Linked DNA regions of Homo sapiens. The gene in region 2 interacts genetically with the main gene of each other region. Each region holds a gene or a part of one and is shown on either strand. Other genes may lie near its edges.

Region 1 (9,928 bases), on a different chromosome or scaffold from region 2:
CCCCTTCCACTCTCTGAATGCCTCTGTGATCCTGGGAGGGTCACAGTCCTAAGCCTCCCTTTCAGCTCCAGTCACTCCCAGCACCCTAGCCAGAGCTCTGGGACAGGGTGAACCCCAGCTGTGCCAACACCCCAGTGACAGAACATGCCTTTTATCAGTATTACAGTCAACTGGTCCATCCAACTGAAATGAGGAAATCGGGGCCCTGGAGAAGCCAAAGGCAGCGTGACTCAGTTTTGGCATCTGCTGTGGTATTTTTTTTCAGACGGAGTTTCACTCGTCGCCCAGGCTGCGGTGCAATGGCGTGATCTCGGCTCACTGCAACCTTCGCCTCCTGGGTTCAAGCGATTCTCCTGCCTCGGTTTCCCGAGCAGCTGGAATTACAGGTGCCCGCCACCACGCCTGGCTAATTTTTGTATTTTCAGTAGAGATGGAGTTTCACCATGTTGGCCAGGCTGGTCTCAAACTCCTGACCTCAAGTGATCTGCCTGCCCTGGCCTCCCAAAGTGCTGCCGTTGTGGTTTTAACTAAACTGCCTGCTGTACAATTATTGTTTAAAAAAAAAAAAGTTAGGACTCCCTCCCCCTTTAAAAAAATCAGCTCAAAACTCACCTTCAATCAGCCTTCCCCGAAGACCCCACCTGACTTTGTCTTCCTTCCTTTTTTTTTTTTTTTTTTTTTTTTTTAAAGAGACAGGGTGGGCCGTGAGCCGTAGCTCATGACTATAATCCCAGCACTTTGGGAAGCTGAGCCGGGCGGATCACCTGAGGTCGGGAGTTTGAGACCAGCCTGACCAACATGGAGAAACCCCGTCTCTACTAAAAATACAAAATTAGCCGGGCGTGTTGGCACATGCCTGTAATCCCAGCTGTTCGGGAGGCTGGGGCAGCAGAATTGCTTGAATGCGGTAGGCAGAGGTTGCGGTGAGCCAAGATTGCACCATTGCACACTCAGTCTCGGGAAAAAAAAAACAAAAAACGGAGACAGGGTCTCGCTCTGTCACTCCAGTCTGGAGCACAGTAGCATGTCCATGGCTCACTGCAGCCTCAAACTCCTGGGGTCAGTGATCCTCCTGCCTCAGCCTCCCAAGTAGCTGGGACTATAAGCACACACCACCATGCCTGGCTAATTTAAACATCTTTGTTACACAGACAGGCCAGGTGGTCTCAAATTCCTGACTTCAAGCCATCCTCTGGCCTTGGCCTCCCAAAGTGCTGAGATTACAGGCATGAGCCACAGTGCCTGGCCCCACCTGACTTTCTTAATTCAGAGACTTCCCAGAGGATAACTGTACTGTATGCACTAGAATTTGTTGCTAAATAATTCTGCAGGTGTTTATAAATCTTCCTGTCTGTACTGTTTTCTCAACTAGACTGGCAACACTTAGAGAGGCTGTTTCTTCTACACCTACACCCTGCTGTAGAATAAACCTGAAAATCTGAATTGCCGAAGTAGACAAACATAGGGTAAAATTATTTGTATCTTTTAAGAAAGAGTCTTATTTTTATAGTTTTTTTTTTTTTTTTTTTGAGACGGAGTCTCACTGTGTTGCCCAGGCTGGAGTGCAATGGCGTGATCTTGGCTCACTGCAACCTCTGTCTCCCGAGTTCAAGTGATTCTCCTGCCTCAGCCTACTGCGTAGCTGGGATTAAAGGTGTGCGCCACCAGGCCCAGCTAATTTTTGTATTTTTAGTAGAGACAGGGTTTCACCATGTTGATTAGGCTGGTCTCGAACCCCTGACCTCGTGATCCGCCTGCCCTGGCCTCCCAAGGTGCTGGGATTACAGGTGTGAGCCACTGTGCCTGGCCATTTTTATAGATTTTCAATAGGCATCCTTTGCTAACACAGTCAGCATTCTGTATTCATAGATTCAACGAACCATGGATCAAAAATACTCAGAAAAAAAAAAAAGATAGTTGCATCTGTATTGAACATGAACAGACCTTTTTTTCTTGCCATTATTCCCTAAACAATACAGTATACTATTTACACAGCATTTACATTGTATTTGGTATTATAAGTAATCTACAGATGATTTAAAGTATATGGGAGAAGGTGCACAGGTTACATGTAAATACCATGCGATTTTATATACGGGACTTGGGTGGCTATTGGTATCTGTGGGGGTGGGGTTCCTAGAACCAATCCCCCATGGCTACAGAGGGATGGCTGTACACTGACTGTGTGCTTATAAATGATTATTTGAACACAAGGAGCTACAGAGAAACTAAGTGGTTAAGTATTGTGGCCTCTGACAAATGATGACCCACCTAAAACCAATAGGAAATAGGGTTCCCATCCAAAAAGCACTATCTGGCTGGACGAGGTGGCTCACACCTGTAATCCCAACACTGTGGGAGGCCGAGGTGGGCAGATCACCTGAGGTCAGGAGTTAGAGACCAGCCTGACCAACATGGTGAAACCCTATCTCTACAAAAAATACAAAAATTAGCTGGGCGTGGTAGTGGGCACCTGTAATCCCAGCTACTCAGGATGTTGATGCAGGAGAATTGCTTGAACCGGGAGGTGGTGGTTGCAGTGAGCTGAGACAGCGCCACTGTACTCCAGCCTGGGGGACAGAGCAAGACTCCGTCTCAAACAAAAACAAAAAACAAAAAGCACTATCTGCTCACAATTTTGTAGGACAGTCCTCTGTACCTCTTCCATGCCACAAAAGATTCTCAATAGCTGCTAAGCAACACGGTGGTGGTGTTGGGGGGAAGGGCATGGGCCTAGGTCTCACAAAACAGGAGCTTCTAGTCCCAATTCAGCCATTAACTGATTAGTTGGGTGACCTCAAGTCACTTTCCCAGATCAAGACAGTCCTGGGGGAACTGACATGCTACACTCTGTCTGGCAAAACAATGGTGGGCGGTAAGTAGCCAAAAGTTCACTGGGAGACGTCAAGCTAAGTATAGCCCTTGGTGCAGTAAATCTACCGGAGACAACTCAGAGGTGCCTGGACTACGGGGCCCACATCGCAGAGCAGCCCAGATGGCAGCGGGAAAGGGAGAGTACAGCGCCTCACCCTCGAGCAGCACGATGCCTTTACGGATGTCATCATTGTACTTGCTCCGCACCAGGCACCAGGCGTACTCAAACTGCGTGCTCTTGGACACCGAGCCTGCTGCCTTCTCAGACTGAAATTTCTTTTCAAACTTCTGCCACAGGGGAGGAAAGGAATCATTTAGAAATGTAGGGCGTCAACCATTCTCTATCTGGACATGCCATCTCCCTGGCTCTGCCCCTTTCCCTCGCAGGTCTCGGTATCTGGCACCCCAGCTTCTGCTATCTCCATGCCCGGGACCCAGGCTTTCGGCTCCTCCGGGCCTGCGGGCCAGCTCTTGGGACAGAGGCCCCCGGTCTCCCCTCCCCGCGGCGGTACCGAGCGGAGATGCCACCTGGTGGCAGCTCCAGGCACCGCTCCCGGAGCAGCTGACCCCGGCGGCCGAACAGTAAACACGCTGTCAGAACTGCTCAACAGCCCACGCGGTCCTCATTTGAGGCTGCTGGCCCCATCCTGCCCCACCCTGCCGGGCCTGGACCTTTTATTGTCCAGGAATAGAAGTAGTGCCTACCTCCTAGAGCTACAAAGACTGAGATCTGGCATGCGATGCCTTAGCACCGTGCCGGACGCAGTAATAGGTGACACCTTATGATGGTCACTGTATTCCTCCACCGCTGGAGGAGCGCCCTGAGCTCACAGCTCCTGCATGATCCCAGATCCCGTCAGTCTAACCACGGTCGGGCTCCAGGCCCGTAGTCTGAGGTGTGGGGGGCTCAGGACACTACAACTCCCAGGAGCCTCTGCGGCATAGCAGGCCCTCCGGGCAGGAGCCAGGCGCTGTGGAGGCTGCCGGGAGCCGTAGTTCGGCTTCCCTCGGCCAAGCCGATGCCGGGAGGAGGGTTCGGCCCCTACCTGACTCTCCTCAGGACCCGCCCTCCGACCTTCCCTTTCCCTCTGTCCGGGCCAGGCCTCACCAGCAGGTCCTCCACAGACACCAGCTCGTTCAGCACGGCCTCCATGGCCACTGCCCCCGCGAGCCTCACACTACAGTCTACTGTGCCACAGTCTCCATGGCCCAGTGGCAGGGGCGGAGAACCACTTCCGGCGTCCGGCGGATGCTGGCACGACCTGGCGACGCCCCGCCCCTTCCTCTCAGTTCAGCAGCGCCGGCGGGGCGCTAGTGCGCAGGCTCGGCCGGTCCCTCCAGCCCGCAGACTGCGCGCAGGGAGACCTTCCCCAGGTTGGTCTTCCCAGGTGCCTCAGCCGGTGCCTTCCTCTGTGGAGGCTTCCCTAGGGAAACTGGAGGCCATGTCTTGGCGGTTAGCCCCCAGGATGAAAACAGCAAAAAGAGGGTGGGTAGCTGACCAGAGATCACAGTACATTAGGGTGCCAAGCTGACGCCCCTCAGAAATCTAGGACCTTGGAGGCCACGTGACTATTCATCGCCTGCAACAAAATCTTAACTAGAACCGGGAGCCCGGCGCGTAGCTCACGTCCGAAGCCCAACAACTTGGGAGGCCGCGGCGGGAAGATCGCTGGAGGCCAGGAGTTCAAGACCAGCCTGAGCAACATAGCGAGACCCTATCTCTACAAAATTTTTAAAAAAATCAACCGGCGTGGTGGCGTGCACCTGTACTCCCAGCTACTGGGGCGGCTGAGGCAGGAGGATCGCTTGAGTCCGGGAGTTCGAGGCTGCAGTGAGTTATCGCGCCACTGCACTCCAGCTTGAGCGACAGAGACCTTGTCTCAAAAAACCCACCAACAGCAGCAAACTAGTATCGGGGTTTCTTGGGCCTCTGCTGACTCTCACAATGCAAGAGCAGAGGCAACTGGATCTGTAAACCACACAGCCACACAGGGGTAGTCATAGGAGACACTATCAACGGGAAGTTTTTCAAAAAGCAACGGCCCCATTATTGGCAGAGAAGGTCCAATTTTCAATATTATTTACATAAACCATTTTGGGAGTGCACCCCAGGCGGGAAACCTGCCACATGGGGTCACGGGCAATGGGGAGCTTAGCAGTGAGGAGCTATCAGAGCATGGGAAGGAGAAAGGTGTGGACACCTCTGGCTTCAGTTTCTGTGCAGTGAGGGGACTGGGTAAGTAGCAACTTTCAAATTCTTTTCCCCTTGAGTCACATTGGAGTGTAAGTTCCTTGAGGGCAGAGACTTACCTTGCTTATCCAGCATCTAGCACAGGGCTTGGCAGAGAGTGAGGGCTCAATAAATATTTGTTGAATAAACACGGAAAAAGCAAATTAATTGTAAACAAGGCACTGCACATGCAGGGGATAATCATCCAGACACCTTCCGCGTTTGCAAAGCCCCTTTAATTTTTATTATTTTTTAGAGACAGGGTCTCATTCTGTGGCCCAGGCTGGAGTGCATGCAGCGGCACAATCAGAGCTTACTGCAGCCTTGACCTCCTGAGCTCCTGTAATCCTCCTGCCTTAGTCTCCCAAGAAGCTGGGACTACAGGTGTGCACCACCACACCCAGGTTGTTTTTTGTTTTTTGTTTTTTTTTTCCGAGACAGTTTCTCGCTCTGTCACCCAGGCTGGAGCGCAGTGGCACAATCTCGGCTCACTGCAACCTCCGCCTCCTGGGTTCAAGCGATTCTCTTGCTTCAGCCTCCCAAGTAGCTGGGATTACAGGCGCCGGCCATCACACCCAGCTAATTTTTGTATTTTTAGCAGAGATGGGGTTTTACCATGTCAGCTAGGCTGGTCTGAAACTCTTGACCTCAGGTGATCAGACTGCCTCGGCCTCCCAAAGTGCTGGGATTACAGGCGTGAGCCACCGTGCCCAGCCAAGCCTCTAATATTTTTCTCCTCATAATAGTCTCGTGAGTTAGAAAGACAAGAGTTATTCTTCCCTATTTGGCGTGGATGGTTGAAATGACTGATACAGTAAGCTCTGTAAGCCTTGAGAGAATCCCCAGGTTGGGGAACTGGCTGCCCACTAGCATAAGCCTCAAGGGGAAAACTTCATGTTCATTCAGAGAAGTATACAGCACCTAATTTTGCCTGGGCCTTGGGGTGGCACAAAGGACACTAGGGCTGAGTGCAGTGGCTCACGCCTGTATTCCCAGCAGTTTGGGAGGCCAAAGCGGGTGGATCACCTGAGGTCAGGAGTTCGAGACCAGCCTGGCCAACATGATGAAATCCCATCTTTACTAAAAATACAAAAAATGCACCTCTGCCCAGCCGCTGTGCAACCTTCCAAGTGTGAAGTGACAGCCTTGTATGTGATCTTTCTGCCCTCCCCAAGTTTGCATTTTCAACATTAAAGTTTACTTTTTAATTAAAAAAAAAATATATATATATATATATGCACACAAAAAAAATTAGCCGGGTATGGTGGTGGGTGCCTGTAATCCCAGTTACTTGGGAGGCTGAGGCAGGAGAATCGCTTGAACCCAGGTGGTGGAGGCTGCAGTGAGCCGAGATCCCATCACTGCACTTCAACCTGGGTAACGAGAGCGAAACTCCATCTCTAAAAAAATAAAAAATAAAAAAGATGGACACGATATGAAGCAGGTGACTGAAAACAGGACTGAAGACGGGAGGCAAACACTGGCAGGGCAGGGGACACAGGAAGATGAAGGGGGCACTCCTTCTATTAGGAGGCTCCTTTTTGGGGGGCAGCCTGAACCACAGTCATGTTTATATTTGCTGCAGCCCTTGGTAGAGGCCTGGTGCATGGCAGAAGCACCATCAGGATTTGCTGAATGTCAACAAGGGATGAAGGGAGAGTGATTTACTCAGGTGGCTCAGTTGTGTGCCAATGAAGAGATCCGTAGTCTGTAGCTTTTCAAGTCTAGTTAGCATAGTCATCCACCTCCGACATAGTGATAGAAAGTAGTCCCTGTTAATTTTACACCCAATGGCTGAGCGCGGTGGCTCACGCCTGTAATCCCAGCACTTTGGGAGGCCGAGGCGGGCAGATCACGAGGTCAGGAGATCGAGACCATCCTGGCTAACATGGTGAAACCCCGTCTCTACCAAAAATACAAAAAAGAAATTAGCCGGGCGTGGTGGCGGGCGCCTGTAGTCCCAGCTACTCGGGAGGCTGAGGCAGGAGAATGGCGTGAACCCGGGAGGTGGAGCTTGCAGTGAGCCGAGATCACGCCACTGCACTCCAGCATGGGTGACAGAGCGAGACTCCGTCTGAAAAAAAAACCCTTTCATGCCTTCTCATTGCCCTTAAAACAAACACAGCCTTCAAGGTCCGTTAGGATCTAGCCATGCTTAATTCTCTTCCTCATCTATCACTACCTCTCCTGGTATGTACTATGTACACTGGCCCTATAGGCCTTCCTTCAGCTCTCAAACCCCTGGTGGCCACAGCTCCGCTACACAGGCAGTCCTCTCTGTTTGGAACATCTGTCTCCTCCTCCATTGCTTATTTGGCTCATTCATTCCCTCATGATTTAATTCATTCAAGAAATACTAATTGAGCTCCTGCTGTGTAGTAGGTGCTCAATTAGTTGCCTACAAATAGTAGCCTGGCACAGTGTAAGCCAAGGTGGAGCTTACATTTTCATGGGGAAAACAGAAAAAAATAACTCAACAAATAAAAGCACTGTGACATAATAAGACCTATATATTTGGGGCCAGGCCCGGTGGCTCATGCCTGTAATCCCAGCAGTTTGGGAGGCCGAGGCGGGCAGATCACCTGAGGGCGGGAGTTCGAGACCAGCCTGACCAACATGGTGAAACCCGTCTCTACTAAAAATATAAAAATTAGCCGGGCGTGGTGACAAGCACCTGTAATCTCAGCTATTGAGGAGGCTGAGGCAGGAGAATCGCTAGAACCCAGGAGGTGGAGGTTGCGGTGAGCACAGATCGCGCCATTGCACTCCAGCCGGGGCAATAAGAACGAACTCTGTCTCAAAAAAAAAAAATATATATATATATATATACATATATACATACACACACATATATATATTTGGTCTCTGCCCTGGTTCCCAACACAAAGGTCCTAAAATCCTTGTAATTTCCTGAGTGATAGAAGTAATAAGAGCATCTTTTTTTTTTTTTTTTTGGAGACAGCGTCTCACTCTGACCCCAGCTTTGACTGCAGTGGCGGGATCCTGGCTCACTGCAGCCTCGACCTCCCAAGTCAGGCGATTCTCCCACCTTGGCCTCCCAAGTAGCTGGGACCACAGGCACACACCACTACACCCGGCTAATTTTTGTATTTTTTTGTAGAGACGGGGTTTTGCCATGTTGTTCAGGCTGTTTTGTTGCCCAGGCTGGTCTGGAACTCCTGAGCTCAAGCAATCCGCCCGCCTTGGCCTCTCAAAGTCCTGGGATTACAGGTGTCAGCCACGGCGCCCGGCCAATAAGAGCATCTTACACAGAGCTCCAAAATCCCTTGCAACATCCTGAGTGACAGGAGTGCCTTTTCTTCTAATGAAGTGACTCGCTGGGCTCCTGGACAGCATCAGGATGAGGGCTGGTCACCAGGAAGACCAAGCCAGGATTTGAAGTTTAGCCTCTTAAGCTTGAACTTTTAGCCTCCCCCCTCATCCTTTGGGGAAGAGAGAGGAGCTGGAGATTGAGTTAATAATCGATCATGTCTACGTGATCAAGCTTACATAAAAAGCCCTTAACTTGGCTGGGCACAGTAGCTCACACCTGTAATCCCAGCACTTTGGGAGGCCGAGATGGGTGGATCATTTGAGGTCAGGAGTTCGAGACCAGCCTGGCCAATATGGTAAAACCCTGTCTCTACTAAAAATACAAACATTAGCCAGGCAAGGTGGAACGTGCCTGTACTCTCAGCTACTCGGGAGGCTGAGGCAGGAAAATCGCTTGAACCTGGGAGGTGGAGGCTGCAGTGAGCCGAGATTGCACCACTGCACTCCAGCCTGGGCGACAGAGCGAGATGCTGTCAAAACAAAACAAAACAAGGCAGGCGCAGTGGCTCACGCCTGTAATCCCAGCACTTTGGGAGGCCGAGGCGGGCGGATCACCTGAGGTTGGGACTTAGAGACCAGCCTGACCAACATGGAGAAACCCCGTCTCTATTAAAGATACAAAATTAGCCGGGCATGGTGGTGCATGCGTATAATCCCAGCTACTTGGGAGGCTGAGGCAGAAGAATCACTTGAACCTGAGAGGCGGAGGTTGTGGTGAGCCGAGATTGCGCCATTGCACTCCAGCCTGGGCAACAAGAGCGAAACGCTGTCTCAAAAAAAAGAAAAGAAAACAACACAAAACAAAACAGAACAAAAATTACTCCTCTGGGAAAATGATGAAAGAAAAAAAATGGAAGAAAAGGAAGACATGAAGATATTCATTCCTGCATTATCTGTGAAGGTAAACAAACAACAAAAATGCCAGGGAATGGTTTTATTAAATGATAATACATCAATATAATGGAATAATATACAGCCTTAAAGTCACAGTCACATGGATTCTATGCCTGTGGACAGTAATACTCAAAACAAAACAAAGAAGTATCTACTTCTCAAATTCAGACAGGTGGGTGAGCAGAAAGGAAACTGACATCTTAGGTTGGTGAGACTAAGACCTAGAACTGGTGTATATGGGCAGATTCTGGGCTCTGGACCCCTCCCTGGAGTACACCAGCAGCTGGGGCCTATTTTGCACTTCCCGCTTCAGCCTTTTGCACAAGAAGGGCTCAGCAAACACCCGCTGAACAGGATTCCATATTTGCGTTCTTCCAATTTTCAGTAATCTGTCTCCTCTACTTCCCAGTTCCATCTGCTATCCAGTTAGAAAGTCCTGTCAACTATCAATTAATTCATTCACCCATCAAAACATTTAAGAACCTACTATGTTTAGGAGGCTGAGGTGGGAGGATTGCTTGAGCTCAGAAGTTCGAGACCAGCCTGGGCAACACAGCGAGACCCCAACACTAAGTTAAAAATAAATACATAAAAATC
Region 2 (9,910 bases):
CGGAGTTCAAGACCAACCTGGGCAAAATGGCAAAACCTCATCTATACAAAAAATACAAAAATTAGCTGGGTGTGGTGATGTGCACCTGTAGTCCTAGCTACTTGGGAGGCTGAGGTGGGAGGATTGCTTTAGCCAGGGAGGTCAAGGCTGCAGTGAGCCATGATCACACCACTGTACTCCAGCCTACGTGACAGAGTGAGGCCCTGTCTCAAACAAAAACAACCACCACCACCACCACCACCACCAATGTAAGTTCACACAAAAACCTCTACACAAATGTTTATGACAGCTCTACTTATAATTGTCAAAAATGGGAAACAATCCAAATGTCCTTCAACAGGTTTATCAATGGATAAACAAACTGTGGTATATCCATATAATAGAATACTAATCAGTAATAAAAAGCAAAAAACTACTGATCCACACAACAACATGGATGAATCTCAAAGACATTATGATGAGTGAAAGAAAACAGTCTCAAAATTTATATGCAGTCCAATTCCATTTATACAGCATTCTCAAAAATGCAAACTGAGTAATGGGGAACAGATCAGTGTTTGTCAAGAGTTATAAGCAGGGAAGGGTGTTATTCAAAAAGGACAGCATGGCTGGGCATGGTGGCTCATGTCTGTAATCTCAGCACTTTGGGGGGCCAAGGCGGGTGAATCACTTGAGGTCAGGAGTTCAAGACCAGCCTGGGCAACATGGCAAAACCCCACCTCTACTAAAAATACAAAAATAAGCTGGGTGTGGTGGTGTGTGCCTGTAATTCCAGCTACTCAGGAGGCTGAGGACCAATAATCGCTTGAATCTGGGAGGCAAAGGTTGCAGTGAGCTGAGATTGTGCCATTGCACTCCAGCCTGGGTGACGGAGTGAGGCTCTGTCTCAAAAAAAAAAAAAAAAAAAAAGGACAGCATGAGGGAGTTTTTTGGAGTGATGGAACTACTTCATCAGTGGAAAGAAAAACATAAAGCTGTCTTTATCTCCAGATGATATGCTTATATAGGAAATCTGAGGAAATCTACAAAAACATTTTCTAGAACTAATAAATGAGGAGAGCAAGGTGGTAAGATACAAGTTCAATATACAAAAACTGATTGTATTTCTATGTACTGGCAATAACAAACCAAACATTGAAATAAAAATACCATTTACAACAGTATCAAAAACATGAACTACTTAGGGATAAATCTGACAAAAGATATATAAAACCTGTATCCTGGGCTAGGCAAGGTGGCTTGCACCTGTAATTCTAGCAGCTCAGCAGGCTGAGGTGAGAGGATTGCTTTGAGTCCAGGAGTTCAAGGTTGCAGTGAGCTATGATCATGTTGCTGCACTCCAGTTTGGGCAATACAGCGAAACTCCCTCTCTAAAAAACACCCACCCACATACTGAAAACTATAAAATATTGCTGACAGAAATTAAAGAAGACCTAAATAAATGGAGAGTGTGATACCTTATTTATGAGTTGGAAGACTCAATTTTGTTAAAATGTCAATTCTTTTCAAATTCATGTACAAATTCAACACAATCCCTATGATAATCCCAGGTGGCTTTTTTTTTTCCAGAAATTAAGAAGCTAACTTTACAACTCATAATTGGAGGACTAACACTACTTAATTTCAAGACTTATCACAAAGTTACAATATTCAAGACAGTGTGGTATTGGTATCAAAATAAACAAACAGATCAATGAAATCAAATAGGGAGTCCTAAATTAGATGCAAACATATATGGAGAACTTATTTTTGACACAAGCACAAAGACAATTCGGTGGAAAAAGGATATTCTTTTCAGCAAATAATGCTGGAGCAATTAGATATCTATATAGGAAAAAAATGAATGCCGATCCATACCTTGCACCATATGCAAAAATTAACTCAAAGTAAAATCATACACCTAAATGTAAAACTGAAAACTATAAAACTTCTAGAAGAAAACTTTGGCAATCTTCTCTTAGACAAAGATTTCCTAGATATGACATTAAAGTATAACCTAAAAAGAACAAACTGGTCATTTAAACCTTTTCAAAAATAAACTTGTGTTTCTTCAAAACACACTGTTAAGAGAATAAAAGGTAATCCTCAGATGGGGAGAAAATATATGTGCAAGTCACTTATCTGATAAAGTACTTTTGTCCAGAGTATTTTTAAAACTCTCAAAACTCAGTAATAAAAGAAGTAACCCGGCCGGGTGCAGTGGCTCACGCCTGTAATCCCAGCACTTTGGGAGGCCAAGGCGGGCAGATCATGAGGTCAGGAGAGCGAGACCATCCTGGGTAACATGGTGAAACCCCATGTCTACTAAAAAATACAAAAAATTAGCTGGGCATGGCGGTGGGCACCTGTAGTCCCAGCTACTCGGGGGGCTGAGGCAGGAGAATGGTGTGAAACCAGTGAGCCGAGATCGTGCCACTGCACTCCAGCCTGGGCGACAGAGCGAGACTCCATCTCAAAAAAAAAAAAAAAAAAAAGAAATAACCCAACAATTTTTAAATATGTGCAAAAAATTTGTACAGATACTTAACCAAAGAAGATATACAGATGGCAGATAGACTCATAAAAAGATGTTCAGCATCATTAGTCATTTGTGAAATGCAAATTAAAATCATGAGATACCACTACACGTATATTAAAATGCCTAAAGTTAAAAAGATAGACCATGAAAGTGTTGTTGAAGATGTACAATAAGAATGCTCATACACACTATTGGGAAACCAAAATAGTACAACTGGTTTGGAAAACAGTTTGGCAATTTCTTAAAACGCTAATGTGGAGGCCAAAGCAACTCCATCTTAGATGCTAATCCTCCATGTTAACTTCTGATTATCCCCAGTTCCAGAAAAACCTCTAAGATTTCCATTTGACTCATTCCTTGTGTAAGAGCACCACTTACTGTAAATATTGCCCTTAGGTCAAAACAACCTTGATGTTATCATTCTTGCCATAAATTCTGTCCTTAAGCAATTATCTTACACATTCCTTCTGAAGCACCTTTCTCTATAGCACAGAAACCCTGGGTCTGGTGGATAATGGCAGGGATCCACCATCTTGTCTTGCTCCTGAGACATGGCTTCTGTTTGTTTGTTTAAATTGTATTTATTTATTAAATGTTTGTTTCTGAGAAACTGGGTATGTCAGCCTCTTGCTTTGGCCTCTCAGCTTTCTCAGACTTTTAGGGGTAGGTTTGCATAGGCCTGTCCCCTGCAGGACAGTTAAACACATTATCTACCATCATATCCAGTCATTCCACTCTTAGGAGTGGTAGAAGGGAACTGAAAACATATGTCCATACAAAGACTTGTACACGAACAGTCATTACAACTTTATTTGTAGGAGCCCCAAAGTGGAAACAACCCAATGTCCACCAACAGGCAAACAGATAAGCTCTCACGCATTGTCAGTGGTAATACAAAATAGGATAGCCACTTTGGAAAACAGTTTGGCAGTTTCTTACAAAGTTAAACATACCATATGTTTCAGCAATCACATTCCTGCATATTACAGTAGGAAAATTAAAACTTATGTTTCACATCAAAATCTGTACTTAAATATTTATAGCAGCTTTATTTATAATGGCTTCAAATTAGAGACAACACAAATGTACTTCAGTGGGTGAATGGATAATGAATTATAATACATTCACATTGTGGAATAAAAAATTACAAACTACTGATGTGCACAACATAGATAATCTCAAATGCATTATGCTAAGTAAAATAAATCAGAAAAGAAAAGAAAACGCTACATACTATATGATTCAATTTATATGATATTGTGAAAAAGGCAGAATTGTAGGTATAAAAAACAGATGAGGCCAGGCGTGGTGGCTCACACCTGTAATCCCAGAACTTTGGGAGCTCGAGGTAGGTGGATCACCTGAGGTCAGGAGTTCCAGACCAGCCTGACCAGCATGGTGAAACACCATCTCTACTAAAAATATAAAAAATCAGCCATGCGTGGTGGCGCATGCCTGTAATCCCAGCTCAGGAGGCTGAAGCAGGAGAATCGCTTGAACCCGGGAGACGAAGGGTGCAGTGAGCTGACATTGCGCCATTGCACTCCAGCCTGGGCAATAAGAGCAAAACTCTGTCTCAAAAACAAAAACAAAAAACAGATGATACACATCTGTGTTTAGAAGCACCCTGTGCTCACCTCTATCATCTAACATATCTCTGTGTTGTACTTATCAGTTTACTGTGTTCCTTGTTAACCTATTACCCTACGACTAGAGTTTAGCACAGTGGTTGGTATATGGCCAGGACTCAATAAATTCTCATTGCTTGCAGAATTGCCCTGACCTGGGCCACGTATTTAGAGAAAACTTCTGGCTCTCTTCGAGGCTCTTTCCTCTACAAAAAATGAGTAACCCATGGGGCCAAGGAGATATGCTCACCCAAAGCCTAGTTTCCCTCTTCTGGAGTCTAGACCATGTTCAGGGTACCAATACCCCTGGAATTTACTGCCCAAATGACACCATGGCCTGCATGAGCCCTTCTCAGCTTTCACCTGAGGGCAGACCCAGCTGCTAATGTGAGCACTCCTCGATCTGAAAAGGTGGCAAAGGCATGGCTGCTTGCAGAGGTACGGGCAGACGTTGGATGTGGCTTGGAGTATCAGGATGGTATACAAGGCTCCTGGCAGGGAATGCAGGTGGGCACCAGAAACCAGAAAAGAAAGGGAAGTGGGAAAAGACTGGGAGCCATTTCTCCCCACACTGCCATATTCCAGCTGTGTTTCCAGGTATTCTAAGGAGTCTAGGGATTCTGAAGATGAACCTGGCCTTCTACATCATTATGAGGGTCTATTTGTCAATGTAGGAAAACAGACTATATTTTACTTTACAATTTGTTGCTTGATTTATAACTAAAATATTTAAACATACGGTGTGCTGGACTCCATTTGTACTCTTACCCAGGGCCTGCAAATGTTAGGAGCTGGCCTGACCAAGGGAATAAAGATTACGAAAATGTTCACCTTATTTTATTTTATTTTATTTTTTTGAGACAGCGTCTCGCTCTGTCGCCCAGGCTGGAAAGCAGTGGCACAATCTCGGCTCACTGCCACCTCCGCCTCCTGGGTTCCAGCGATTCTCCTGCCTCAGCCTCCCGAGTAGCTGGGATTACAGGCGCCCACCACCACGCCCGGCTACTTTTTTTGTATTTTTAGTAGAGACGGGGTTTCACCCTGTTGGCCAGGCTGGTCTCCAACTCCTGATCGCAGGTGATCCGCCCACCTCGGCTCCCAAAGTGTTGGGATTACAGGCGTAAGCCACAGCACCGGCCGACCTTATTTTGTGGTTATAGAGGGTACATTTTATAAAATTACTGCCACGGAGTGGGTAAGGCTCCTTTTCTTCAAGCCGCACAGAACGAATGTTCAGCGGTGCAATTTCATTGCAATCTATTTTTGCTTCACTTTGCTCATAATGACTCTTTTAGGATTTCCTCAGGTAACAATCTTCTTTCAATGTTCAATAATCCAAGCAGAACATTTTCTCACTTCATCCGCCTCCCATGCTAGGTTCACACTGTGAAATTGGCTTATCTCTGACCTAACCACTTCCTTCACCAGACATAGAGCTGGTGTAGCTCAAGGGAAAGAGGCACGGCGCTGGGAAATGATTAGGCCCCACCGTCCCAAGCAAGAGCTCAGGGGAGTTCTGAGGCTGGAGAGACCATTCGGGATATCACCCCGGGTTCCTGAGAACCTGAGATCTGCGGGGAGGCGTCAGGCATCCGGAAACGCCCGAGTCTGGGGAGACGGACCCCCTCAGACTTTCCTCTAGGAGACTCTACAGGTAAAGGGGAGTCCTGGGACTCGAGGGGAGCCCCGGCATCCAAAGGTAAGATCAGTTTTGCTCACCTGGCCGGGCGGCGTTGCGTCGCCTTGGTAACCACAACTTCCGGCTTGAACCGGAAGTCCGCGAAGTTGCTCTACAGAAAGTGTGCCCGCCCCCTCTGGGGCGGAGAGACTCAGCCCCTCCCCCTCAGCGGATAACCTGGGACTGACCGTTCCCTGGGGATCCGACGGGCCCCAGAGGACCCACGCCTGAGCCCCGTGCGACTCGTGGCCTTTGGGCTAGAAGCCATGGACGCCTTCACCCGCTTCACCAACCAGACCCAGGGCCGGGACCGACTCTTCAGGTGAGTCAGGTGCCAGCGGCCTCCGCCCCTTTCTCGCCCTAACTCGGCTCCCGTGCCTATTCCCCTGCACCCGGGAAAAAGGAGGTGATAGCCTAGTAGATGGAAGCAGGAAGGACGTTGCCAGCTCCTACGGAGGGAGTTTAGTATCCGAGCCCCTCCTTACCCTAAATTCAACGTGAGTGGGCCCAACGCACCCGCGTCCCGTCCTAGCCCCGTGCACGAAAGCCCCAGTGCCTGGCACCCTAGCCGCCTCGAGACCGCCGACGACGGGACACCGGCTGACAGATCCTCCTCCCCTCCTAACTTTGCTCTCCGGGCACAGAAAGATTGGTTCTCTCCACTCAACATTCTTCCGAGGGATCTCCTTTAAAGAGAAACTTTGGATTAGTATTTGTGGCTAGGGAAGCAAACCACTTGGTGTGACTTCAAATATCTCTCTTTTTTTTTTCTTTTGAGACGGAGTCTCGCTCTGTCGCCCAGGCAGTGGCGCGGTCTCGGCCCACTGCAACCTCTGCCTCCCGGGTTCAAGCGATTCTCCTGCCTCAGCCTCCTGAGTAGCTGGGATTACAGGCGTGCACTACCACGCCCGGCTACTTTTTGTATTTTTAGTAGAGACGGGGGTTTCGCCATGTTGGCCAGGCTGGTCTCGAACTCCTGACCTCAGGTGATCTGTCCACCTCGGCTTCCCAAAGTGCTGGGATTACAGGTGCGAGCCACCGCGCCCGGTCTCAAATACCTCTTGAAATGTTTGAGGAGAGACAGAAGTTCTCTTCCATTATTACCCAGGCTGTATCATTGAGATACTGCATGTGGAATAGTTTTGTAAATTGTAAAACAAAATATAGCGGGGATGAGACCACACCAACTGGATTGGGGGGAAATACAGTGGGGAGAAGCTCAGAAAGAACTAACTGCACCTCTAAGGTTCATGCTGTGCTACTGAAAATATTAAACAGAGATTGTGTCTCTTTTTCTTTTGGTTCCATAAGAAACGAAAAGAACTGAGAGATTGTATCTTTAATACGAATACAGTACTAGTTCATGATGTTTTAGAGATTTGGTTGATTCTTGCTTAATGAAAAAATATTTACAGTTGCAGTTTTATTTAACAGCTCTGCATTCTCTTCTGGGTGTGCAAGTGCTGATACAAACAGATCAATTAGAATGGCCCCAATAATGAGGCTTTTGGAAGCCATCTTTATGACAGCTATTGTTCCCAGTGTTTTGCAACTATGAACTTATATAACCCTCATCACAACCCTATGAGGTAGATACTCTAAATATTTTACCCACTTCAGATGGAGAAACTGAAGCAGAAAGAGGTTAATAGGTACTACAATGGCAGAACTGAGGGATTCACATCCACGCAAATGACTCCAGTGCCCACTTAACTACCAAGCTATACTGGCTTTCTCATTAGTTTGATAGGTTTTTTAAATGGTTACTTTATATACAAGCTTCATTAAATAGAAATTTCATTAAATAGAAACCTGTAATTCCAGTGTACCTAGAATGTACCCTGCAGGGTTTATCAAGGAAGTTGGTTAAAAAAATAATCATTTAGGCCGGGTGCAGTGGCTTACACCTGTAATCCCAGCACTTTGGGAGGCTGAGGTGGGCGGATCACAAAGTCAGGAGATCGAGACCATCCTGGCTAACATGGTGAAACCCTGTCTCTACTAAAAATACAAAAATTAGCTGGGCGTTGTGGTGGGCGCCTGCAGTCCCAGCTACTCAGGAGGCTGAGGCAGGAGAATGGCATGAGCCCAGGAGGCAAAGCTTGCAGTGAGCCAAGATCACGCCACTGCACTCCAGCCTGGGCAACAGAGCGAGACTCCTTCTAAAAAAAAAATAAAAACATTAAAAATAATAATCATCATCATTTAGGCCGGGTTCAGTGACTCACACCTGTAGTCCCAGCACTTTGGGAGGCTGAGGTGGGCAGATCATGAGGTCAGGAGTTCGGGACCAGCCTGGCCAACATGGTGAAACCCCATCTCTACTAAATATGCAAAAATTAGCTGGGCGTGATGGCACATGCCTGTAATCCCAGCTACTCAGGAGGCTGAGGCAGGAGAATCGCTTGAATCCGGGAGGCGGAGTTTGCAGAGAGCCAAGAACGCACCACTACCCTCCAGCCTGGGCAACAGAGCGAGACTCTGTCTCGAAAAATAATAATAATAATAATTTAAGATATGTTTATTCCAAAAGATCTGAGATCTCTAGCATTCATTTCCCAACCTCCTTGATGATCTGTATAACCTTTATGACCACACTGGCATTCATAAAATAATACCTTGCTTTCTGTGCCAATAATGCTCATGCAAACACGGTGAACATTCCTAAAACCTGTCAGACTGTAAGAAGTGTGGCAAGCACCAACCCCACAAAGTGACATAGTACAAGAAGAGCAAGGATTCTCTGTATGCCCAGGGAAAGCAGCATTATGACAGGAAGCAGAGTGGCTGTGGTGGGCAGACTAAGCCGATTTTCCAGAAAAAGTCTAAAACTACCAAGAAGTTTGTGCTAAAGCTTGAGTGTGTTGAGCCCAGTGAAGATCTAAGAGAATCCTGGCTATTAAAAGATGCCAGCATTTTGAACTGGGAGGAGATAAGAAGAGAAAGGGCCAAGTGATCCAGTTCTAAGTATCATCTTTTGTTTTATTATGAAGACAATAAAATCGAGTTTATGTTCACTTCAAAAATAAATAAATAAAAGTAATGTCTTACTGTTGGCCTGATCCTTATTATTAGACCAAAGCTCAGAAAGGCAGAATCATTGACATGACCAGTCCTGTAACCAGGAAGGACACTTAAAAAAGAGAAAGCGATTGTTTATGATTCCAGTCTTCTCTTTTTATTTCATTCCTAGTAACAAGTTCACTATTTTAGAAAATGAAAATGTACCGCATTTTTATTGAGAATAATATTTATAGCATAAAGGGATTCAAATGCACTTACAAGACAGTAGGAACCAGGCACCTACTTTATTAGTAGATTGCCAAATGGATTTGGATGTGTGACTATGTGATGTAAAATTTCTCCTACATTTATATTAGTAAGTCATTGTTATTTGTAAGCATGACAATAATCACTTTATTAAATATATAGTATTATTAAGCAGGATTCTGCCTGTATTTTATGTAAAATACGAATAAGTTTTGAAAGACAACTATGAAAACATATTTATACTAATTTATGTACTGATGTGTATTTGGTCCTTTCGTTTATAAAAAATTAAACAATCTTTAAACTGTGGACTTTTCATTTGGTTCTGGTTTGAGTTTGTGTCCTGTCACATAGATGGTAGGTTAAGTACATGGTAGAAAAGTTCATTTTAGAAATCTGAAAATCAGGCCAGGCACAGTAGCTTATGCCTGCAATCCCAGCACTTTGGGAGGTTGAGTAGGGCAGATCACGAGGTCAGGAGATCGAGACCAGCCATGACCAAAATGGCACAACCCCGTGTCTATTAAAAATACAAAAATTAGCTGGGCGTGGTGGCACACACCTGTAATCCCAGCTACTCGGGAGGCTGAGACAGGAGAATCGCTTGAACCAGGGAGGCAGAGGTTGCAGTGGAGCCAAGATCACACCACAGCACTCCAGCCTGGCGAAAGAGCGAGACTCGATCAAAAACAAACAAAAAAAAAACAAAGAAAGAAATCTACACTGGGGAAGAGAAGGAATATGGATCTTTGTAGACTTAACATGAGGGAGATTTTGTACAGTTTCTCACTTTGACTATATCCATTTCTCTGTGCC
Region 3 (10,134 bases), on a different chromosome or scaffold from region 2:
ATGTATATATATGGGTAAGTTACTGAATTTGGGGAAGTTCTTCAAGGTGAATAAAGAAGTTTATTCTTGCAAACCAATTTATTCCATGAGATAGGAAACATGATCTTTGGAGACATTGACTCACATGCTTACAGTTCTATAACCAGAGAGAGAAAATATTTTTGTTCAAATTCAGGTTAGGAAATTCTCAGAGAAGGATTCTAAATGGTCCTGCAGGTCCATCCCTAGACCAATCACCTTAACCAGGTGCAGTAGGCCCCTCCAATAAGTCCATGTCCTAATCCCTGGAGCCTGTGAACTTTATGTCTCAGGAGAGACTCTGTAGATGTGATTAAGGGTACAGGCCTTGAGACAGGGATATTATCCTGGGTTGTCCAGGTTGGCCAATCTAATGATGGGCCCTTAAACACAGAGAAGCTTTTCTGGGGGTCAGAGGCCTGATGACAGCAGAAGAGTTAAAGAGATGCGACATTGCTGGCTTTGAAGAGGTTGGAAGGAGGTAACCAGCAAGGAATGCAGGGGGCCCCTAACAAAGGCAAGGAGGTGAATTCCCTGCTAGAGGCTTTAGGAGGGTTTGCAGCCCTGGTGACACCTTGATTTTAGTCCAGTGAGACCTGTGTGAGACTACTGAACTATAGAACTGTAAAACAATACTTTTTTTTTTTTTTTGACATGGAGTCTCACTGTGTTGCCCAGGCTGGAGTGCAGTGGCGTGATCTTGGCTCACTGCAAGCTCTGCCTCCCAGGTTCACGCCATTCTCCTGCCTCGGCCTCCCGGGTAGCTGGGACTACAGGTACCCGCCACCACGCCCGGTTAATTTTTTGTATTTTTACTAGAGACAGGGCTTCACCATGTTAGCCAGGATGGTCTCAATCTCCTGAACTCGTGATCCGCCCGCCTCGGCCTCCCAAAGTGCTGGGATTACAGAAGTGAGCCATTGCGCCTGGCCACATTTTTGTTGTTTTAAGCCACTAAAATTGTGGTAATTTGTTAAGGCAGCAATAGGGAACTAATATACTAGAGAAGCAAGGCAGAAACCAGGTTCCTAGGTTTCAGTTCCTCCCCAGTTCTCTCTGCCTCATCTGCTGTGAGACAGCTTGCTGAATGAGATCCCCTACACCCTCCCCCACAGCACACTCACCTCATTCCACAGGAGTAAACTGCGTGAGAGAATGAAATAGACGATGTAGTGATAAGATGTAGAGCTCTGATTCTGCCTGAGCTCCTAGTTCCAGTCATTTTTTTTTTTGAGGTGGAGTGTCACTGTGTCACCCAGGCTGGAATGCGGTGACGTGATTTTGGCTCACTGAAACTTCCGCCTCCCGGGTTCAAGCAATTCTCCTGCCTCAGCCTCCCGAGTGGCTGGGATTACAGGCTCTCACCACCACCCCCAGCTAATTTTTGTGTTTTTAGTAGAGACGAGGTTTCACCATGTTGGCCAGGCTGGTCTTGAACTCCTGACCCCAACTGATCCACCCATCTCGGCCTCCCAAAGTGCTTGGATTACAGGCTAGAGCCACTGCGCCCAGACATTCAGTCATTTTTGAGGCAAGTTAGCTCAGAATTAAATTTCTGTCCTTACAATTAGCTATCCTGCCTAAATCATAAAGCTATGGTGAGAGAGGGATGGTTGCAGGAGAAGAGGTGTTTTTTGTTGTTGTTGTTTTTTTTTTTTGAGATAGAGTCTCACTCTGTTGCCCAGGCTGTAGTGCAGTGGCGCGATCTTGGCTTGCTGCAACCTCTGCCTCCCAGGTTCAAACAATTCTCCTGCCTCAGCCTCCCCAGTAGCTAGGACTACAGGCGCGTGCCAGCACGCCTGGCTAATTTTTTGTATTTTTAGTAGAGACGGGGTTTCACCGTGTTAGCCAGGATGGTCTCCATCTCCTGACCTCGTGATCCACCCACTTCGGCCTCCCAAAGTGCTGGGATTACAGGTGTGAGGCACCGCACCTGGCCGAGAAGAGGTTTTTTTAAAGGCCTTTTGATATCCGATAATGGTTTAATGTGATTCCCACAGGAAGCCACTGAAGAACACATTATTCTTAGATGCACAAAGACTCTTTTTTGTGGGAAATCCATTTAGCCACTTATTAGTTAAATTGATTTCCCACAAACAAGAGTGTTCTGAACTTAAAACATGAAAGCCGAAATTGGTTTTTTTTCTTCTTTTTTTTTTTTTTTAGTTGGAGTTTTGCTCTTGCCGCCCAGGCTGGAGTGCAGTGGCGCGATCTCGGCTCACTGCAACCTCTGCCTCCCGGGTTCAAGCGATTCTCCTGCCTCAGCCTCCCGAGTAGCTGGGATTACAGGCACGCGCCACACCAGGCTAATTTTTTTTTTGTATTCTTAGTAGAGATGGGGTTTCACCATGTTTGTCAGGCTGGTCTTGAACTCCTGACCTCAGGTGACCCGCCCACCTCGGCCTTCCAAAGTGCTGGGATTACAGGCGTGAGCCACCGGGCCTGGCTCTTTTTTTTTTTTTTTTTTTTTGAGACGGAGTTTTGCTCCTGTTGCCAAGGCTGGAATGCAATGGTGCAATCTCGGCTCACCGCAACCTCTGCCTCCCGGGTTCAAGCAATTCTCCTGCCTCAGCCTCCCGAGTAGCTGGGATTACAGGCGTGCACCATCACGCCCAGCTAATTTTTGTATTTTTAGTAGAGATGGGGTTTCTCCATGTTGGTCAGGCTGGTCTTGAACTCCCGACATCAGGTGATATGCCCACCTTGGCCTCCTGAAGTACTGGGATTACAGGCATGAGCCACCGTGCCCGGCCTTCTGTTTTCTTTAGAAGAAAACAAAAGCTCCATCAACAGAGGGGTGAGAAGCAAAGTGGGTAATATCTGACTATTATGTAATATTATCTTTGGTAGAAAGTCAAGAGACTTGGAATAAAACTGTTTTTTGGAGTTCTGAAATTTTTGTCTTATTTTATCTCTGAAAAATTTTTTTTTTGAAAATAATCAAAGAGGAGATGTTCACAAAACCTGTCAAGATGCCAAAACACCACTAATGGATCTTTAGGTCTTGGCTTACTTCATCCATTTGTTCACAGATATTTATTAAGCACCTGCCATTTGTCCTGCTGAACAAATCAAGCATGTTCCCCGCAGCCATTGTGTACAGCTAAGCAGGTGAATGGCACCCACTGGAGTTGCGTAGTGCACAACTTCCACTACTGCTGGTGGTTCTTGTCCTCATGGAGATTAAATTTAGTAACTTCTAGGAAGTCTTTCTCGAATCTCTATCCTCTTGCTCAGACTGGAAAAAGTGCTCTTATTATGTTTTCTTTTCTCTTTTCTCTTTTTTTTTTTTTGACACAGGGCCTCACTCTGTCACTTAGGCTGGAGTGCGGTGGCACGATCACAGTTCACTGCAGTCCCCACCTCCCAAGCTTAGGTGATCCTCCTACTGCAGCCTCCCAAGTAGTTGGGGCCACAGGTATGCACCACCACGACAGGCAAGCTAATTTTTTTGTATTTTTTGTAGAGACTGGGTTTTGCCGTGTTGCCCAGGCTGGCCTTGAACTCCTGACCTCAAGTGATCTGCCCGTCTCCTGCCTCAGCCTCCTGAGTAGCTGGGATTACAGGAATGCACCACCACGCCCGGTTAATTTTTGTATTTTTAGTAGAGACGGGGTTTCTCCATGTTGGTCAGGCTGGTCTTGAACTCCTGACCTCAAGTGATCCGCCTGCCTTGGCCTCCCAAAGTGCTGGAATTACAGGCGTGAGCCACGGTGCCTGGCCTCTCCTCACCTGCTTTAATTCTTTACTCAAATGTCACCTTTTTACTTTGAGGTTTACTTTTACCTTTGGAGGTTTGGAGTAGAGGAGGGATACTATCTGTCTAAAAAGAAAAACAACATTTAGAAATATAACAGTATGGGCCGGGCATGGTGGCTCAGGCCTGTAATCCCAGGACTGTGGGAGGCCAAGATGGGCGGATCACTTGAGGTCAGGAGTTCGAGACCAGCCTGGCTAACATGGTGAAACCCCGCCCCCCACCCGTCTCTACTAAAAATACAAAAATTTTCCCAGGGTGGTGGCGGGTGCCTGTAATAACAGCTACTTGGGGGGCTGAGGCAGGAGAATCACTTCAGCCTGGGAGGAGGAGGCTGCAGTGAGCCGAGATTGCGCCACTGCATTCCAGCCTGGGCGACAGAGTCAGACTCTGTCTCAAAAAAAAAAAAGAACGGTATGAGCAAAGAGTGAGTAAGGCAGTTATCAGATGTCTACTTTGCCAGGAATCAGGCTACAGCAAATAAAGGTTTATACATAATATTGATAATAAATGCCCAGCTCTTCCCCTGTAAAACTCCAATACTCTAAGATTTTTTTCATGAACACCGCCCCCCGCTGCTCCGACCCCTGCTTTTTTATTTATTTATTTATTTATTTGGTAGAGATGAGGTCTCACTATGTTGACCAGGCTGGTCTCGAACTCCCAGCTCAAGCGATCCTCCTGCTTCTGCTTCCTAAAGTGCTGGGATTACACCGCGCTCGGTCCTGAACACACATTTTGTTTGTTTGTTTGTTTGTTTACAAAACCCCTGGAGAACCCGCGTATTCTAACCTGGGCTGGTTTTTGTATTTTTGCAAAATAACACCCCACACATTCTCGTATCAGCGTGCAGATTTTTTTGCACCCAGTTTGGTTGTTTGCGGCCATAAGCTTTTCTTTAAGCCTTTCCAACCCGTCCTTCTAGAGAAAGTGTCTTCATAAGGAAGTCACACTGCTCACGCCTGTAATCCCAACACTTTGGGAGGCCGAGGCGGGTGGATCACTAGGTCCGGAGATCGAGACCATCCTGGAAAACACAGTGAAACCCCGTCTCTACTAAAAATACAAAAAATTAGCCGGGCGTAGTGGTGGGTGCCTGTAGTCCCAGCTACTCCGAAGGCTGAGGCAGGAGAATGGCGTGAACCCGGGAGGCGGAATTTGCAGTGGGCCGAGATCGCGCCACTGCACTCCAGCCTGGGCGACAGAGTGAGACTCCGTCTCAAAAAAAAAAAAAAAATAAATAAATAAAAAATAAATAAAAGGAAGTGACACTGGATAATTAAGAGACACACCATTGCGCCTTTAACACATATTCACACCCAGCACTGTCACATCCATCGTGCCTTGAGGACAGGCATAAATTTACGGCCTTCCTCCTGCGCTCCCGGCCTGCTCCTAGCCTTTGACTAGAGCCTGCGCAGCATCCCAGTCCCAGGCTAGGGCCCACCGGTGCCGCGCAGCCTCCTGGAAGCTGTGGGGAGTAGCGTTCCTCCGCTCCAGAACTACAACTCCCAGCAGGCCTTGCTCCTCTCCACCTCCCTCGCAGCGCATGGCCTGCCGGGAGGGGGCAGGTAGCCGGCGGGCCCGGTCCAATGGGTGCCGGCTTCCGAGGAGAGGGCGGAGGAGAGGAGGAAGGAGGCGAACTGTGGGCCCCGGCCCCATTCATTGCCGTGGCCGGCGGGCACTGGGGCCCCGTGTTTTCAGAGTCATGGAGGCGCTAATTCCTGTCATAAACAAGCTCCAGGACGTCTTCAACACGGTGGGCGCCGACATCATCCAGCTGCCTCAAATCGTCGTAGTGGGAACGCAGGTGAGAGCAGCAGGCGGCGTTCGCTCGGGCCAGACCCCGGCCGCAGGCCTGGTCGGTGCTGCGGCAGTGCCCACTCCCGCGCCAGCGCCCACTCCCGCGCCAGCCTTTGGGGCCTGTGGGAGGAGGGCCTTGCTGGGGGCCCCAGGGCTCTCCGGGCTCTGCCGCACCCGCCCTCCCGGGGCAGCGTTGCATCAAGGCGGAGAATCCGGGGCCCGGCCAGGGGCGGAGCCGGCGCGGCGGGCCTGGCTAGCCCGGCGGGTCCCGGGGACAGGAGAGGGAAGGATGGGGCCGGCGGGCGGAACTGGAGTCCGCTGGGACCGGGCGCGGCCTCGTCCGCGTGCCGCTGCCTCCAAGGGCACCTGGGGGACGCGCGGGGCACTCGGGTCTCGCTGGGCTCGGTGGGCTGGCTGTTCCCATCACTGTTGGCTTTCGTGAGACGGGTGTTTTATTTCCCTCCTTGCCTTGCCCAGGGACTGCGGAGTTAGTTTTGGAATCGCTCTGTTGAGGCTGAGAGACGCTACGGTGCGTGAGCGCCAGTGTTTTCCTGCAGTATAATTCCACCAGGTTTCGAGAACGCCGAAGCAGCATTTTAAAAAAAGAAAAACAAAACGTGTATCTAGAGTTCTGCGGGTGTTGGGAAGGAATATCCGATTTTTCTGCGTAGGCTGTGCTTTTTGTCTTCCACAGTTTTGTGATCGTGACCTAAATTGGGCATCAGTTTCTCTGGTCTTCTCATAGCTAACTCATTTTTTTTTGAATGCAGAAATGTTGGCAAAATAACTGTTATTTCTAGAGTGACAGAGGAGAAGTATAATTTTCCTTTTCTCTGCTACTTCGATTAGAGTTCAGAGAAACGGATTTTAGAAATTAGTATATTGATATTAAGTGCTTTCATTTCTTAATAGTATCTTTTCTATTGAGAAGGAGCGGTTTCCCCATCATTTTCCAGGAGGTACATAGTATAGGGTATAAGTGCTATCAGAAGGAACTTACTGTTCAAAGTATTAGTGGCTATCCAAACACTGGAAACTATAGACACCCTGTACTCGTTTGTTTGTTTGTTTGTTTTTTTGGCTTTTAAATAGTTGAAGCAATAGAAATTGTTTTAGAAACACATTTCCTTGGTCTGCGATAGGATTGGGAAAGATTCTGCTCAATCTTGCCTACGTATTCTAGTATTTGTAACAATATTTGTAATGTTTGGAGACTCAGAAGCATCAAACAAATTACGAGGATTATTTTTTATTGAACATAATTTTGTTCAGTCTGGGACATATAGTAAGTGCTCTGTAAATATTTTGAGTAAATATTGCTCACTCTAACCACAATGTTTTAAAACACTGGGACTTTTATCATCAAAACTAACCTGTTTTTGTAAAAAGTTAGAGATAATATAAATTAAGTCTTTGATAGTAAGTGATTCAGAAGTGTCTTCTAGCTGCACACTAGAAACTTTCCACATACTTTTAAAAGAGAGTCTCAGTGCTTTTTAAGCATGAGGAAGTAAAAGAATTAGGGATATAGTGTGTCAGCATAAATAGTTTAAAATCAATAAGTTGTTTTTTTCTTTTTACACAAAATAGAGTTTATTTTGGTCAGTAAACCTGTTGGCAAAATACAGAGTGGCAGGAGAGAAAAGTAAAGATCCCATCCTTCTGAAAGCCATTAACATGTGCAAAAACCATCCTAGTACTGACAGTTATATGCTATATTTGCATGTTGGTGTTTGAAATTTCTCAAGAGGTCAGTTTTTCTACTTGATTTAATGAGGGTTATTTCCATCTAAGTTCTTATTAGCTGATAATCAGTCTTTTACTCAAGTACAGAAGAAATACAGAATAGAAATTATCCGAGGTAGGCAGATCACTTGATTCCAGGAGTTCAAGACCAGCCTGGGCAACGTGGGGAAACTCCATCTTTACGAAAAATACGAAAATTAGCTGGGCATGGTGGTGCGAACCTGTAGTCCCAGCTACTCTGCAGGCTGAGGTGGGAGGATCACCTGAGCCTGGGAGGTTGAGGCTGTGGTGCGTGCAGGAGTGCATGTCACTGCACCCCAGCAGAAAGAGAGAGAATAGAAACTATTTTCTCCCCACACCGCCCCCCCCGCCCCTATTTTCTCCCCACACCGCCCCCCCGCCCCCGCCTTTTTTGTAGTGTGTTGGGGAAACAAGAATCTCTTCTTGGTTTGAATACTAGTATACCATTACTTTGTGATGTCTGCCATTTTTACTCTTTGGTGTTGTGTAACATATATGTATACCTCACATTTATATTTAATGAAGTAATTGTAGTGAGTGAGTTCCAGACATATAAGTGTTCTGTACTTAGTTCTGCCTAGTATACCTATCGGCAGTAATTGTGTCTTCAGAATACAGGTATAAATTAGCCAGGTGCTATGGTGTGTAGTGTGTGCCGGTAGTCCCAGCTACTTGGGAAGATTGCCTGAGTCCAGGAGTTTGAGGCTGCAGTGAGCTATGATTCTGCGATGGCACTCCAGCCTGGGCGACAGAGTGAGACCCTGATTCTTCCAAAAAAAAATTAAAAAACAACTTCAAGTGTAGTCTCTATCCTACATATTATCCATACCTTAAATGGCTTCAGTTTCTATCTTGTTGAACTTTTTGGAACAGTGATTCTCAGACTTGAGTGTGTATTAAGAATCACTTTGGTTTTTTTTTTTTGAGACCGAGTTTCGCTCTTGTTGCCCAGGCTAGAGTGCAGTGCCATGATCTTGGTTCACTGCAACCTCTGCCTCCCGGCTTCAAGTGATTCTCCTGCCTCAGCCTCCCACATAGCTGGGATTACAGGCATGCACCACCACGCCCGGCTAATTTTGTATTTTTAGTAGAGACAGAGTTTCTCCATGTTGGTCAGGCTGGTATCCAACTCCCGACCTCAGGTGATCCACCCGTCTCGGCCTCCCAAAGTGCTGGGATTACAGGTGTGAACCACCCCGCCTGGCCTAAGAATCACTTTGAAACTAAGTTTCCTGGATCCTGTCTCCAGAGATTTTGATTTTATAAGCCTGGGTTGGGTGAGGGACCATAGGTGATTCTGATACAGATGGTTCCTAGATCCTAATTTGAAAAACATATTAGTGAATCATTGGATTTTAAAATGCATGATACTGGAAAAAGCAGGAAAATTAGGGGAGGTTGAATCTATGGCATACTACCATCCAGTACCATGCTGACTTTGGTGGCATTCTTGCTTTAATATATCACTTCCCAGGCAACCATTGCTGACCCCTAAATGTTTTAAACTTTGGTTTTATGAAATGCCCAAGTAACACTCATTTGGGGGCTAGGGACTTGGAGGAGTGGAGGTGAGGGAATCCTGTTTACAGCTATCAGTCATTCACATGTTTTATGTGTTAGCTAAATAAATTGCTTTTATTTTTTCTAGTAGAGACCATCTGTGTGAAATGAACAGACACAGTGGGGAGAGAGAGAAGGCTGATGATACTTTTAGACCATGGTGTAACTTTGCAAGTAGAGGAGATAAGACTTAAAACAACTTTTGTGACTCAACTTGGGAAATTTAATCCTATTTCTTAAATTAAGAATTGGAAAGGGGAGCCCTCCAGGTATGTAATCTAAACTACCACCCAATATAGGTATCCGAATACAGATGACATTAACCTGAGACTCTGGCTTAGTGTTCCTAGTAATGTACTTTACACTTTTCCTTTTATTTCAGTGATTTCAGCATTCTATCTTCAGTAATTCAGACAAATGTAAAAGGAAAAACAATTTGGATTTTTTATTTTTATTTTTTTAGGGTCTGGCTCTTTCACCCAGGCTGGAGTGCAGTGGCATAATCCATAGCTCACTGTAACCTCAAATTCCTGGGCTCAAGCAGTCCTCTTGCCTCAGCCTCCTGAGTAGCTGGGACTACAGGCACGCATCTGGCTAATTTTTTTTTTTAAATTTAAAATCGCTGCCTTACTATGTTGCCAAGGCTGGTCTCAAACTCCTGGGCTCAAATGATCCTCTTGCCTTGGCCTCCCAAAGTGCTAGGAGTATAGGTGTGAGCCACTGCACCTAGCCTAAAAATAATTTGGATTTTATTTTATTTTATTATTTATTTTTTTAGAGATGGAGTCTTGCTCTGTTGTCCAGGCTGGAGTGCAGTGGTGCGATCTCAACTCACTGCAACCTCCGCTTCCCGAGTTCAAGTGATTCTCCTGCCTCAGCCTCCTGAGTAGCTGGGATTACAGGTGCATGCCACCACGCCCAGCTAATTTTTGTATTTTTAGTAGAGATGGGGTTTCACTGTGTTGGTCAGGCTGGTCTCGAACTCCTGACCTCATGATCCACTTGCCTTGGCCTCCCAAAGTGCTGGAATTACAGACATGAGCCACTGTGCTCGGCCTAATTTTTGTATTTTTAGTAGAGACAGCATTTTACAACGTTGGCCAGACTGGTCTCAAACTCCTGACCTCAAATGATCTGCCTGCCTCAGCCTCCTGCTGGGATAACAGGTATGAGCCACCATGCCCGGCCAGTAATTTGGATTTTAATTTCTAATTTGCAAATCAACTTTT

The links.
Region 1: of PEX11A (region 2) and FIS1, changing one suppresses a phenotype caused by changing the other (phenotypic suppression), as found in Homo sapiens cells (one study listed by BioGRID).
Region 3: of PEX11A (region 2) and DNM1L, changing one enhances a phenotype caused by changing the other (phenotypic enhancement), as found in Homo sapiens cells (one study listed by BioGRID).

What each region holds. Positions count from the first base shown.
Region 1 is NC_000007.14:101,240,978-101,250,905, forward strand, and holds the start of FIS1 (mitochondrial fission 1 protein), read right to left. Parts: upstream 4,105-9,928; 5' UTR 4,028-4,104; coding exon 3,983-4,027; intron 3,163-3,982; coding exon 3,030-3,162; intron 1-3,029. UniProt on the Homo sapiens protein: Involved in the fragmentation of the mitochondrial network and its perinuclear clustering. Plays a minor role in the recruitment and association of the fission mediator dynamin-related protein 1 (DNM1L) to the mitochondrial surface and mitochondrial fission.
Region 2 is NC_000015.10:89,686,813-89,696,722, reverse strand, and holds the start of PEX11A (peroxisomal membrane protein 11A), read left to right. Parts: upstream 1-5,968; 5' UTR 5,969-6,090; coding exon 6,091-6,146; intron 6,147-6,309; exon of another isoform or gene 6,310-6,375; intron 6,376-8,442; exon of another isoform or gene 8,443-8,846; intron 8,847-9,910. UniProt on the Homo sapiens protein: May be involved in peroxisomal proliferation and may regulate peroxisomes division. May mediate binding of coatomer proteins to the peroxisomal membrane. Promotes membrane protrusion and elongation on the peroxisomal surface.
Region 3 is NC_000012.12:32,673,881-32,684,014, forward strand, and holds the start of DNM1L (dynamin-1-like protein), read left to right. Parts: upstream 1-5,420; 5' UTR 5,421-5,483; coding exon 5,484-5,585; intron 5,586-10,134. UniProt on the Homo sapiens protein: Functions in mitochondrial and peroxisomal division.